Homo sapiens: one gene and its partners. The protein of the gene in region 3 interacts with the protein of the main gene of each other region in a biochemical or structural test. Each region holds a gene or a part of one and is shown on either strand. Other genes may lie near its edges.

Region 1 (3,754 bases), on a different chromosome or scaffold from region 3:
TTGAACAATGGGAACACACGGACACAGGAAGGGGAACATCACACACCGGGGCTGTTGTGGGGTGGGGGGAGTGGGGAGGGATAGCATTAGGAGATATACCTAATGTTAAATGACGTGTTAATGGGTGCAGCACACCAACATGGCACATGTATACATATGTAACAAACCTGCACTTTGTGCACATGTACCCTAAAACTTAAAGTATAATAATAATAATTTCAAAAGACAAATAAAATTTAAAAAAAGATTTATTCATTAACTTAAAAATATTTCTTTAGAATCTGTTCTTGCCAGACACTGTCTAGGGACCAGGACCGCAGCAATGAACAAAATATTACAGTCCTGATATTACTCCCTCATGGAGCCTCAGTTCTACTGGAAGAGACTGATCAAGAAAATGTGTACAAAAAAGTCACATTTTATTTTTACCTTTTTTCTTTTCACTAAACGGTTACCATGACTATTTTAGTTTATTTCTCCTCATTTCCAATAAGACTGAGGTTTTCATTTTAACACTTTCCTTATTTGTGTCACTATCCAGAGACTTTATTGGACTATTGAGTTTGTTTCTTCTCCGTTTATATTCATCTTCCCCACATAGCTAATAATGTCTGTTCTCCTTTATGCCACATGACTTTAGATATTGTACACTAGGCTTCTTCTCTTCTCTTTATTGAAATGTACACACGATTCTCTTGATGATCCGCCAAGGGGTCAGAGCCTCTTGCCCACTGCTAAGCTTGGGACTACCTCTTCTTGTGAAATATATGTTAATATTTTTGACCAAAATATACTAAATCATCTCCTTGTTATGTGTTCTTACATTTTTTTGTAATTTATTTCAAAATAATGTTTGTGCCACAATATTACTCACCACTCAAATCTTCATTCTCAGATATTGAAACTCAATTTTTGAACTAAATTTTTGAACTAAAATACTTCATCAAAAAAGTCTTTAATTTATTTGAGAGATGTTCTTTTCAATATTTGAAGGTTGAACATAATTCTATTACAGAAAACAAATATTTTTTCTAGATTTTTTATGAATGTTAATTAAGTTTTTATTAATTTTACTTTGCCTAAGACCACTATAAGTTCCCAAATTTTTATGTCAGGGTTCAGAAACAGAATATAACACTCTATTATATATAATTACACATAGGGAAGATCCCACAGCATTTTCTATATTTTATAAGTAATATAAACTTTACTAGTTTTATTACTAATCTACTAATATATATAATAATTTTATATACGAATGTATAATTACAATGCTAATTTATATACTAATATACTAATATATACTAATACTAATTATACTAGTTTTTATACTCATTTCTATACTATAAATATACTACATACTGGTATACTTTTATATACTAATTTTTAAGCCAGAGCTTCATTATCAACTGGTACACTCTAAGCTACTTTTTCTTTTATATCATCTATTATCTTTGTTTATGGTTTCCAAGTCTTTTCTACCCCATTAAGAATTTTCTTACAAAGTAAACCACATTGTTTCTTTTTTACTTAATTCTGTATTTCTGTCTCATTTTAATATTGTTTTGAAATATTACAAACTAGATAATAAACTGGGAAGTTTGAGGCTCTAGACAAGTTTGATGAGTAAACTCTTCTAAAAACATTGTTTATAAACATTTAAAGTAGTAAATGCCCCCATACCATTCCCTCCATTTCTCAACTCAGTATGCTACTGCTGTAAACTACCTGCTGGACAAAGCTTTTCCAGTAATTATTTATCTACCCATACTATAATTGAAGTATAATTCTTTTTATAACTGTGATATGCTAAATCAAATTGGAAGATTAATTAAAAAAATGAATCTCCTTTTAATATTAACTATGAACTAGCCTCATACTATATATATATATATATATATATATATATATATATATGCATAAAATTAGCTATTATATTTTCTTAAACTCATGAAGGCTATATGTCATTACCAAATTCTTCTGGGCACTTCTATCTTTTTTAGCCTAAGTGTTAAAAATAATCTCAGTACTACCTTAAATACTTTTATTTCAAACACTATATTTTAAGTAACTACGTTCCTTCTATAGCTCAAGCTACTTTGAAATACATGGTTAGGAGAAGATACAACAAATTTGTATCTAAAATTCTTACCGTTTTTCCAAGATTGAAGAGAAGTGAAGGTAGTGCTGGATGGATGATGGTCCATCAGCTTCTGTGACTGTTTATATACTATATTTAATGACACACTAATTTTGTGATTTGAAATAAGATCAATAGCGAGCTTTAATTCCAAGAAGTCCACATGATTAGAAAATGATTTCTGCCTATTACATATCCCCAGAAATTCTGGGCATCATTATAACAAGGGAACAATTCACAAGTTGATAAAAGAAACCTGTCCAGGAAATGCAATTATTCAATAACAAAAGACAATGACTGGAGGACAGTGATACTCTGGCCCTGTCCCCAAGTTATTATGGACATAATTAGGTCTCTTTAGGGCCTAGTGGGGCCTTGAGATTTCAGTTGTGGGAAAATTGTATGTGAACGCTAGATATACACAGGGCTTCACAAAGGCCACAGTTTCATGTGAACCTAAGCAGTTGTTAGTGCTTTATGCTGAAATGAAGAAACTGACAAGATAACAAGTCCATGATGGTAGCTTAGTTATGTGAGGCAAACTGTTTCTCCCAGGGCCACTTGATTTGGAAAAAAAAATAATTTAGTTAAAACAAATATTTTGTACACAAGATAAATAAACTTTCCTCTGTAATGGAATAACTTGAAGAGGGAATCTGGGTGGCTGGTATAGGCAAAATCTTCAGTAAATCTGTAATAAAAATTTTGCAAAGTATCACGGAGTTTTATTTACCTTTTAATATTGATTATCTCTTTTCAGGTCAAGCATAATTATGATAATATTAATGATGGGTTTTTTTGCTTAGTTCTAACCCTTTGCCAAGCACTAAGCAAAGATATTATCTTGTATAATCTGCACAAGAACATCATGAGGTAGCTCTCCTCTTCATATTTAGGTTGAGAAAACAGAGATGCCAAAAGGTTAAGTAACTTGCTCAAAACCATATTGTTAATGGCAAAGATACCAGTTGGACTCAGATCTGTCTGACTACATGTGATTCTGTTTGATCACATGTGAGTCTCAGAGCCCATGTTTTAACCTTCTGATAATTTTTTATAAAATTTATCTATCAATGTAGCATTTGGTTGAAATATGTACAATTTAATTATGCCTGAATTGGAAAAGTAGGGCCTCTGTGCTGTGTGTGGCAGGGGAGCTTGCCATTAAGGAACTGCTCTTTTAGTTGAGCCTTAGAGAATGAGTAGAATTTTGCGAGATGATTAAATGGGGATAGATATTTTGGCTGAAGAAAACACAGGAACTGAAAGAGCAACATACCAGTTTGAGGATATTCAGAGGGCATACATTGCAAGTTACAATTGCAGAGGTTTGATAGAATCAGATCATGGATGACTGTGAATGTCAGGCATGCACTGTGACATAATTCAGTGGAAGCAAATATATTAGAGATTTGAAAGAAAAATGGATTGTAAAATTTCTTGGATTTCATGACTTTATGACAACAAATCAGGTAACCTAGTAAAGGAAGTTGTTATGTTATGTTATTGCAGTAGCCTAAGACAGACATTATGATGATCTCAAGTAGGGAAATGGTCCTGGGCATCTTAGGCAATAAAAAGACAAACTTCTCATTAAAATACGAGAAATGTGAA
Region 2 (3,654 bases), on a different chromosome or scaffold from region 3:
CAAATGCCTAGTATCTCCTTCAAAAAGAAATTATGGACTGGGCCTGGTGGCTCATGCCTATAATCTCATCACTTTGGGAGGCAGAAGTGAGAGGACTGCTTGAGGCCAGGAGTTGGACACTAGCCTGGGTAAAATAGGGAGACCTTATCTCTACAAAAAATTTTTAAGGCCAGGCGCAGTGGCTCACGCCTGTAATCCCAGCACTTTGGGAGGCCGAGGCGGGCAGATCACGAGGTCAGGAGATCGAGACCATCCTGGCTAACACAGCGAAACCCCGTCTCTACTGAAAATACAAAAAAATTAGCCGGACGTGGTGGCGGGCGCCTGTAGTCCCAGCTACTCAGGAGGCTGAGGCAGGAGAATGGCGTGAACCCAGGAGGCGGAGCTTGCAGTGAGCCGAGATCGCACCACTGCACTCCAGCCTGGGTGACAGTGCAAGACTCCATCTCAAAAATAAAAAAAAAATTAAAAAAATTTAAAAAAAAATTTTTTTTAAAGTAGCTGGGCATGGTGGCGCAACCTGGGTGACAGAATGAGATTCTTAAAAAAAAAGAAAAAAGAAGAAATTATGAATTTTTCCCACTTCAACTGAAAATGCTTTATAGAACACAAAGAAAATCCAGGATAAAAAAAAGACAACTACTACTCTAAAGAAAAAAGCAACATCCTAGTAAATTTTTCCCAGTTCATGGCACAGAAAATAGTGCCAACTATTCAGTGGAAAAAGAATCTTGATAATAAAAAAGCAGCCGGGCACGGTGGCTCACGCCTGTAATCCCAGCACTTTGGGAGGCCGAGGCGGGCGGATCACCTGAGGTCAGAAGTTCAAGAATAGCCTGTGCAACATGGCAAAATCCCGTCTCTACTAAAAATACAAAAAATTAGCCGGGCGTGGTGGCGTGTGTCTGTAATCCCTGCTACTCGAGAGGCTGAGACAAGGAATCGCTTGAACCCGGGGAGCAGAGGTTGCAGTGAGCCGAGATGTCGCCACTGCACTCCAGCCTGGGTGACAGAGAGAGACTCCATCTCAAAAAAATAAATAAATAAAGATAATAAAAAAGCCTGGCTAAAACCTATTAAGAGCAGCTATAGAAAAGAATTTTAGTGACCATTTAGAATGAGTGCCCATTAGGCTTTGACCACGTAAGTGATCACTGCTTTCTTTTTAGGTAACCCAAATGGAAAACAACTTTAAGATTGGAAAATACTTCAGCTTTGTAAAAATCCCAAATTTGAAATCTGTTTTTCCTTTGGACAGGCCAGCTCAGAATGACTTACGGACTTCATTTCCTTCACTGAGAATCTCCACCCGGCGCACAAGCTGCTCAAACAGATTCCGCACATTCAGCATCATAGTATCCATCTTTCTGCCAAGAAATCAAATATACATTAGGGGTCCTGCCTTCTCGCCCACAACAAAAGATTCTATAGCAATCCAGCCATTAGTGACCAACATCTGGACTCTTCCATTTATAACTACCATTATAAGAATCTCAAGCTAACAACAGATGTTTTGTGTGATTCTTATTATAAAAACAAACTTGGAATGTTTAAGACTCATCTGAAAATTAGAAAACCATTTCAGACCTTTGAATATAACAGCCCCTCCAATCACTTGGAGCAGAAAACAAATAGGAAAGAGCATGTCAGTTCATTAGCAAGTGACTGACCAACAAGAAAATGTGGTTCTTCAAGTCAAGCCTATTGATTAATATAATAATTTTGCCAGTTTATTCCTTGTGGGCTTTGAAGACCTACAATGTAACTTAAAATATCTATTTTTAATTTCATTTTTAGCTAATGCCCCTGTTGCAACTGCCTTTTAAAATGCAGGACATGGTCAGCACATTTCCTACCAAAAGCACAGATGACGTCACATGAGTGATTAAGTGGGAAAATCGCCAGCTCAGCAGCACAAGAATTATTTCTGTAATACAGGGCTCTCTGCTGGGCTGCGTGCAGGAACTACGTCTAATAAATTTATACTAAGTAGAGGCAAAGGATTATGTTGTACCACATTCTGGCATCAGAGAGACAATACAGCACCTTCACAGTTCGAAGGGCAAAGCAAAAATCATTTGCTACTGTGTCCTGTATAGTGAATTTCAGACTTTGTATTTCCCCTCAAAGGCCTGCTGATACTATAGAAAAAACAGTGTCGTTACAGGCGGTTCTATTCCAAATAGACTTTAACTGGGAACACTTTGAGGAAATAAGATCTTCACTTAACAGTCAAGAAAGAAAGACATTAACTGGATGTTATGAAAACTATCAAGGAAATGAAATAAAAAGTCAAATTTTATTAGAAATTTAATGTCCTCAGAAATACCATTAAAGGATTCTTGTGTTTCTCTTAACCAATGCTTCAACATTCTAGTCCAGGTCCTTATTTCCTAAATAAAATTTTAAGAACTCTTATGAAGGGTTAGTGATTTTGCAATGTTTACAAGATTGCACCACAAGCTATGAGAGCAAGAAAAAATATATAAAAAAGCACAAAGGACAAAGAATATATGAACATAGGCTGGGCACGGCAGCTCACGCCTGTAATCCCAGCACTTTGGGAGGCCCAGGCGGGCGGATCACTTGAGGTCAGGAGTTCGAGACTAGCCTGAGCCAACATGGCAAAACCCCGTCTCTTCTAAAAACACAAAAATTAGCTGGGCACAGTTATGTGTGCCTGTAATTCCAGCTACTTGGGAGGCTGAGGCAGGAGGATCGCTTGAACCTGGGAGGCAGAGGTTGTAGTAAGCTAAGATGGTGCCACTGCACTCCAGTCTGGGTGCCAGAGTAAGACTCTGTCTCAAAAAAAAAAAAAAAAGAATATATAAACATGAAGATATTTTATATATTAAATGCTGCAGAATTATACATTTATACTCATATGATAATTGCTATAATAGAAAAAAAGTTCTCAGTTCCAAGCCTGGATGCAACATATACCTGAATCAGGGCCGGAAACCAAGATTTTCAAACGGCAAGTATCTGTTCCAAGCTACATAATCACAGCAAGCTGCTAAGCAACCAGACCAACAAATTTATTACAAAGATCTTTCTCTAAACTAAGAACAAAACTAAAAGGATAGCATTAAAACCGGCAGGAAGAGCTGTGGAATTCATGGAGATGCCATGGATTTAACATATAATGAAATAGGCAACATACCCTAAGTGCTACAGGACAGAAACAGGGGCAGGACATTGGGTAGTCAATTCAAATGTTGATTTCCTTTGGCTCTCCTGAGGTAAAAATGGAAGACTCTAATCAGTAGTTTTAATATAAGGTATTACTTTCTATCATCTCGGCATTCACTTATATATCGTGAGACTATAAGACAGCTCAATACCACGGCAAAACTTCTATCTGTCCAAGAATTCAAAAAGGAAAATTTCATGGTGCTAGGATGTTGAAAACTGGTTGTTTAAAAAAAAGCTTTTTTAGGGGGGGTTTTAAGTCTTAAATTACAATATAACCTGTTCTCTTGTCCATTTTTTTTTTTTTAATTTTTTGAGACAGAATCTTGCTCTGTCCCCCAGGCCAGAGTCCACTGGCGCCACCTCAGCTGACTGCAACCTCTGCTTCCCAGGTTCAAGTGATTCTCCGGCCTCAGCCTCCTGACACTGTTCTACTCTTCCTGTTCATGTCCATCAACTACG
Region 3 (3,654 bases):
CCTTTGACCTGTTTTGCATGACAGGCAGCATCTGAGGCCCTTGCACAGAGTCCTAGATGACCACAGGCTATAGCTAAAAAATCACTGGCCCTTAAGAATCCTGGTCTCACCATGTGTATTCTGCTGAGGGCTTATTCTAGCCAATGTCATGGCTTCTGGGGCTGCTCAGTGGACTTAGGGATTGTCTTCAGGGGCCCCAGAGTTAGAGTGAGTGTCCAGAGGATGCCTGACCTTTGTTCTGACCCTGAGATGATTTCTCTCATGTCTGGGTTGTGGCTGGGAGACTGGTGCCAAATCCTACCTTGTGCTTACAGGTATACCTTGTTAGTGGGCAAACCACCTTTTGAGACTTCTTGCCTAAAAGAGACCTACCTCCGGATCAAGAAGAATGAATACAGTATTCCCAAGGTGACTAATGATGCTTTAAGTTTACATTTATTTTGTTTTCCCCAGAAGCTGTTTATGGAGCCCAGCAATATCCTAGGACCAGAAATAGGTCTATCCCACCTCTAAGGTAGCCACAGAGCTTGAGAGGGCCTGTGTCTGAAATTGCATACAGAACTTGACATGTATGTGCACATAAGCATTTTTTCTAGGGGGAGAGAGTTGGCAGATTCTCAAGAGATTGGGTAACCCAAAAGTTGTGTAAAAAGCAAAAAACAAAGGAGGTAGGAAGGAGTAGGAGGCAAAAGTGCTTAATCTTTAGAAATGGTTTATCTTAATTCAAATGGATTCTGCCACTTAGCGAGATCACATTGGGCAAATGGCCTGCATCTTTTTTTTTTTTTTTTTTATTTGAGGTGGAGTTTTGCTCTTGTTGCCCAGTGCAGTGGCATGATCTTGACTCACTGCAACCTCCACCTCCCAGGTTCAAGCGATTCTCCTGCCTCAGCCTCCCAAGTAGCTGGGATTACAGGCACCCACCACCTCGCCTGGCTTTTTTTTTTTTTTTTTGTATTTTTAGTAGAGACGGGGTTTCACCATGTTGGCCAGGCTGGTCTCGAACTCCTGACCTCAGGTGATCCACCCGCCTTGGCCTCCCAAAGTGCTGGGATTACAGGCGTGAGCCACCATACCCAGCCTGGCCTGCATCTTCTGAACCATAGTTTCCATATATAAAGTGGAGTTCCTGCCTTGGAGCACCTCACAGAGTGCCTTGCATGTGGTGAGTGCTCTCAGAATTATGAATCACTGTGAATCCCAGGGCTTCCTAATGGCATAGTTGTGTGCATTTTCTTTTTTTTTTTTTTTTTTTTTTTGAGATGGAGTCTCGCTCTGTCGCCCAGGCTGGAATGCAGTGGTACAATCTCGGCTCACTGCAAGCTCTGCCTCCCAGGTTCATGGCATTCTCCCGCCTCAGCCTCCTGAGTAGCTGGAACTACAGGCACCAGCCACCATGCCCGGCTTCTTTTTTCTGTATTTGTGGTAGAGACAGGGTTTGACCGTGTTAGCCAGGATGGTCTCGATCTCCTGACCTTGTGATCCACCTGCTTCGGACTCCCTAAGTGCTGAGATTACAGGCGTGAGCCACCGCGCCCGGCCATGGTGTGCATTTTCACAACCACCAACAGAAATACATTTAAAGGAATAGCTGGTTCCTGCAGAAGCCTAGCACACAGCCAGTTTGAAGTGTAGTGTCCTTGTGTGAAGCCAGGAGGCCTGTCACCATAAGGACAGACATAGTAAATCCATCACAAAGTGTCAGTTCACTGTCAGAGACAGCATGGAATCAAGCCAGCTAGACAAGGCCTTCACCCTCTCTGTGCCTCACTTTCCTCCTCTGTGAAAAAGGGATGATAATAGATCCCCACCCCTTAGATGAGTTGGTGAGGGCTAAGTGAGCTAAACACAGGAGTGCTTAGAATGCTTTCCTGGCACATAGTGAGTGCTAGGAAAGTGAGTTGGTGTTCGGCCACAGTCCATTGACCCTTCTGTCAATGGTGCTCAGTAAAGCTGACAGTGGAGAACTTGGCATTGAACCAAGTTGTGAACCACTGACCTGTGGTGTATTTGAGACTGGGGGCTGCATGTGGGCTGGGGACCTGCAGCTCCTTTGAGGCCGTACTGTACTCCAGGTCCCCTTCACATTCTGCTTATGGCTGTCCCTCTCTCTGCCCCAGCACATCAACCCCGTGGCCGCCTCCCTCATCCAGAAGATGCTTCAGACAGATCCCACTGCCCGCCCAACCATTAACGAGCTGCTTAATGACGAGTTCTTTACTTCTGGCTATATCCCTGCCCGTCTCCCCATCACCTGCCTGACCATTCCACCAAGGTTTTCGATTGCTCCCAGCAGCCTGGACCCCAGCAACCGGAAGCCCCTCACAGTCCTCAATAAAGGTACAACAAGGGTCTGGGTAAGAGAGCAGACCCCCCAGAGAAAGCCCAGGTTGTAGGGGTGTGTGCAGCTTAGTCCCTGGCCCTGAGAGCTCAGGTGTGGAGTAGGACAGGCCTCTGTCCTTCAATCCGTGGTTCCAATGCCCATCTGCTTCTCGGCCCTGCCAGGAAAGACTGACCTTACCATGGCTGGATAAACGTACCATGCCCAAGAAGAAGAAAATGGATTGAATGCCAAGCCTGAAAAATTCTTTCAAATCACTTTAATTAATTTAATTTTTTGGAGACAGGGTCTCTCCTCTATTTTCCAGGTTGGAGTGCAGAGGCACAATCACAGCTCACTGCAGCTTTCAACTCTAGGGCTCAATTGATCCTCCCATCTCAGCCTCCCAAGTAGCTGGGACTGTCAGGCATGCACCACCATGCCTGGCTGACTTTTCTAATTTTTGTAGAGACAGTGTTTTGCCATGTTGCCCAGGCTGGTCTTGGAACTCCTGGGCTCAAGCGATCCTTTCACCTCCACCAAAGTGTTGGGATGACAGGCATGAGCTGCTACATCTGGCCTTTAAAAAAATTTCTAACACTTTTTCATGATTCATTGAAAAACATAAAAATTTCCTTTTTTTTGTGGCGTGATCCCGGCTCACTGCAAGCTCTGCCTCCCGGGTTCACGCCGTTCTCCTGCCTCAGCCTCCTGAGTAGCTGGGACTACAGGCGCCCACCACCATGCCCGGCTGTTTTTTTGTATCTTTTAGTAGAGACGGGGTTTCACTGTGTTAGCCAGGATGGTCTCAATCTCCTGACCTCGTGATCCGCCTGCCTCGGCCTCCCAAAGGGCTGAGATTACAGGCGTGAACCACCAGGCCCGGCCTTTTTTTTTTTTTTTTTTTTTTTTTTTTTTTTTTTTTTTTTTGAGACAGGGTCTGGCTCTGTCTCCTAGGCTGGAGGGGAGTGGTATGATCTCGATTTCACTAAGGATACATAGTTTTAAAAAGTCACTTGAAATACTTTTTTTCTCTGTGGATATATCACCAATTTGATGTACAACTTCAGTTCATTTTTCAGTTTTCAATTTTTAGGTATTGGTTTTTCTTAAACTTCATTTTGGAATAATTTTAGGCTTATACAGAAAAGTTGCAACAACAACAAAAAACTCCCCAGAGTTCCTACATACCTTGCAGCAATTATTACAGTGGAATTTTTTTTGAGACAGGTCTCAGGACTTGCTGTCACCCAGGCTGGAATGCAGTGGCTCACTCATAGCTTACTGCAGCCCCAACATCCTGGGCTCAAACAGTCCCCCTGCCTTACCCTCCA

Evidence for each region.
Region 1: of the proteins of PLK1 (region 3) and CSN2, one has a biochemical effect on the other in vitro, tested with the Homo sapiens proteins (3 studies listed by BioGRID).
Region 2: of the proteins of PLK1 (region 3) and RACGAP1, one has a biochemical effect on the other in vitro, tested with the Homo sapiens proteins (3 studies listed by BioGRID and IntAct, with this or other methods).

Annotation. Positions count from the first base shown.
Region 1 is NC_000004.12:69,963,529-69,967,282, forward strand, and holds the start of CSN2 (beta-casein isoform 1 precursor), read right to left. Parts: upstream 2,201-3,754; 5' UTR 2,153-2,200; intron 1-2,152. UniProt on the Homo sapiens protein: Important role in determination of the surface properties of the casein micelles.
Region 2 is NC_000012.12:50,015,353-50,019,006, forward strand, and holds part of RACGAP1 (rac GTPase-activating protein 1), read right to left. Parts: intron 3,238-3,654; exon of another isoform or gene 3,200-3,237; coding exon of another isoform or gene 3,164-3,199; intron 1,368-3,163; coding exon of another isoform or gene 1,364-1,367; coding exon 1,279-1,363; intron 1-1,278.
Region 3 is NC_000016.10:23,681,750-23,685,403, forward strand, and holds part of PLK1 (serine/threonine-protein kinase PLK1), read left to right. Parts: intron 1-314; coding exon 315-408; intron 409-2,120; coding exon 2,121-2,340; intron 2,341-3,654. UniProt on the Homo sapiens protein: Serine/threonine-protein kinase that performs several important functions throughout M phase of the cell cycle, including the regulation of centrosome maturation and spindle assembly, the removal of cohesins from chromosome arms, the inactivation of anaphase-promoting complex/cyclosome (APC/C) inhibitors, and the regulation of mitotic exit and cytokinesis.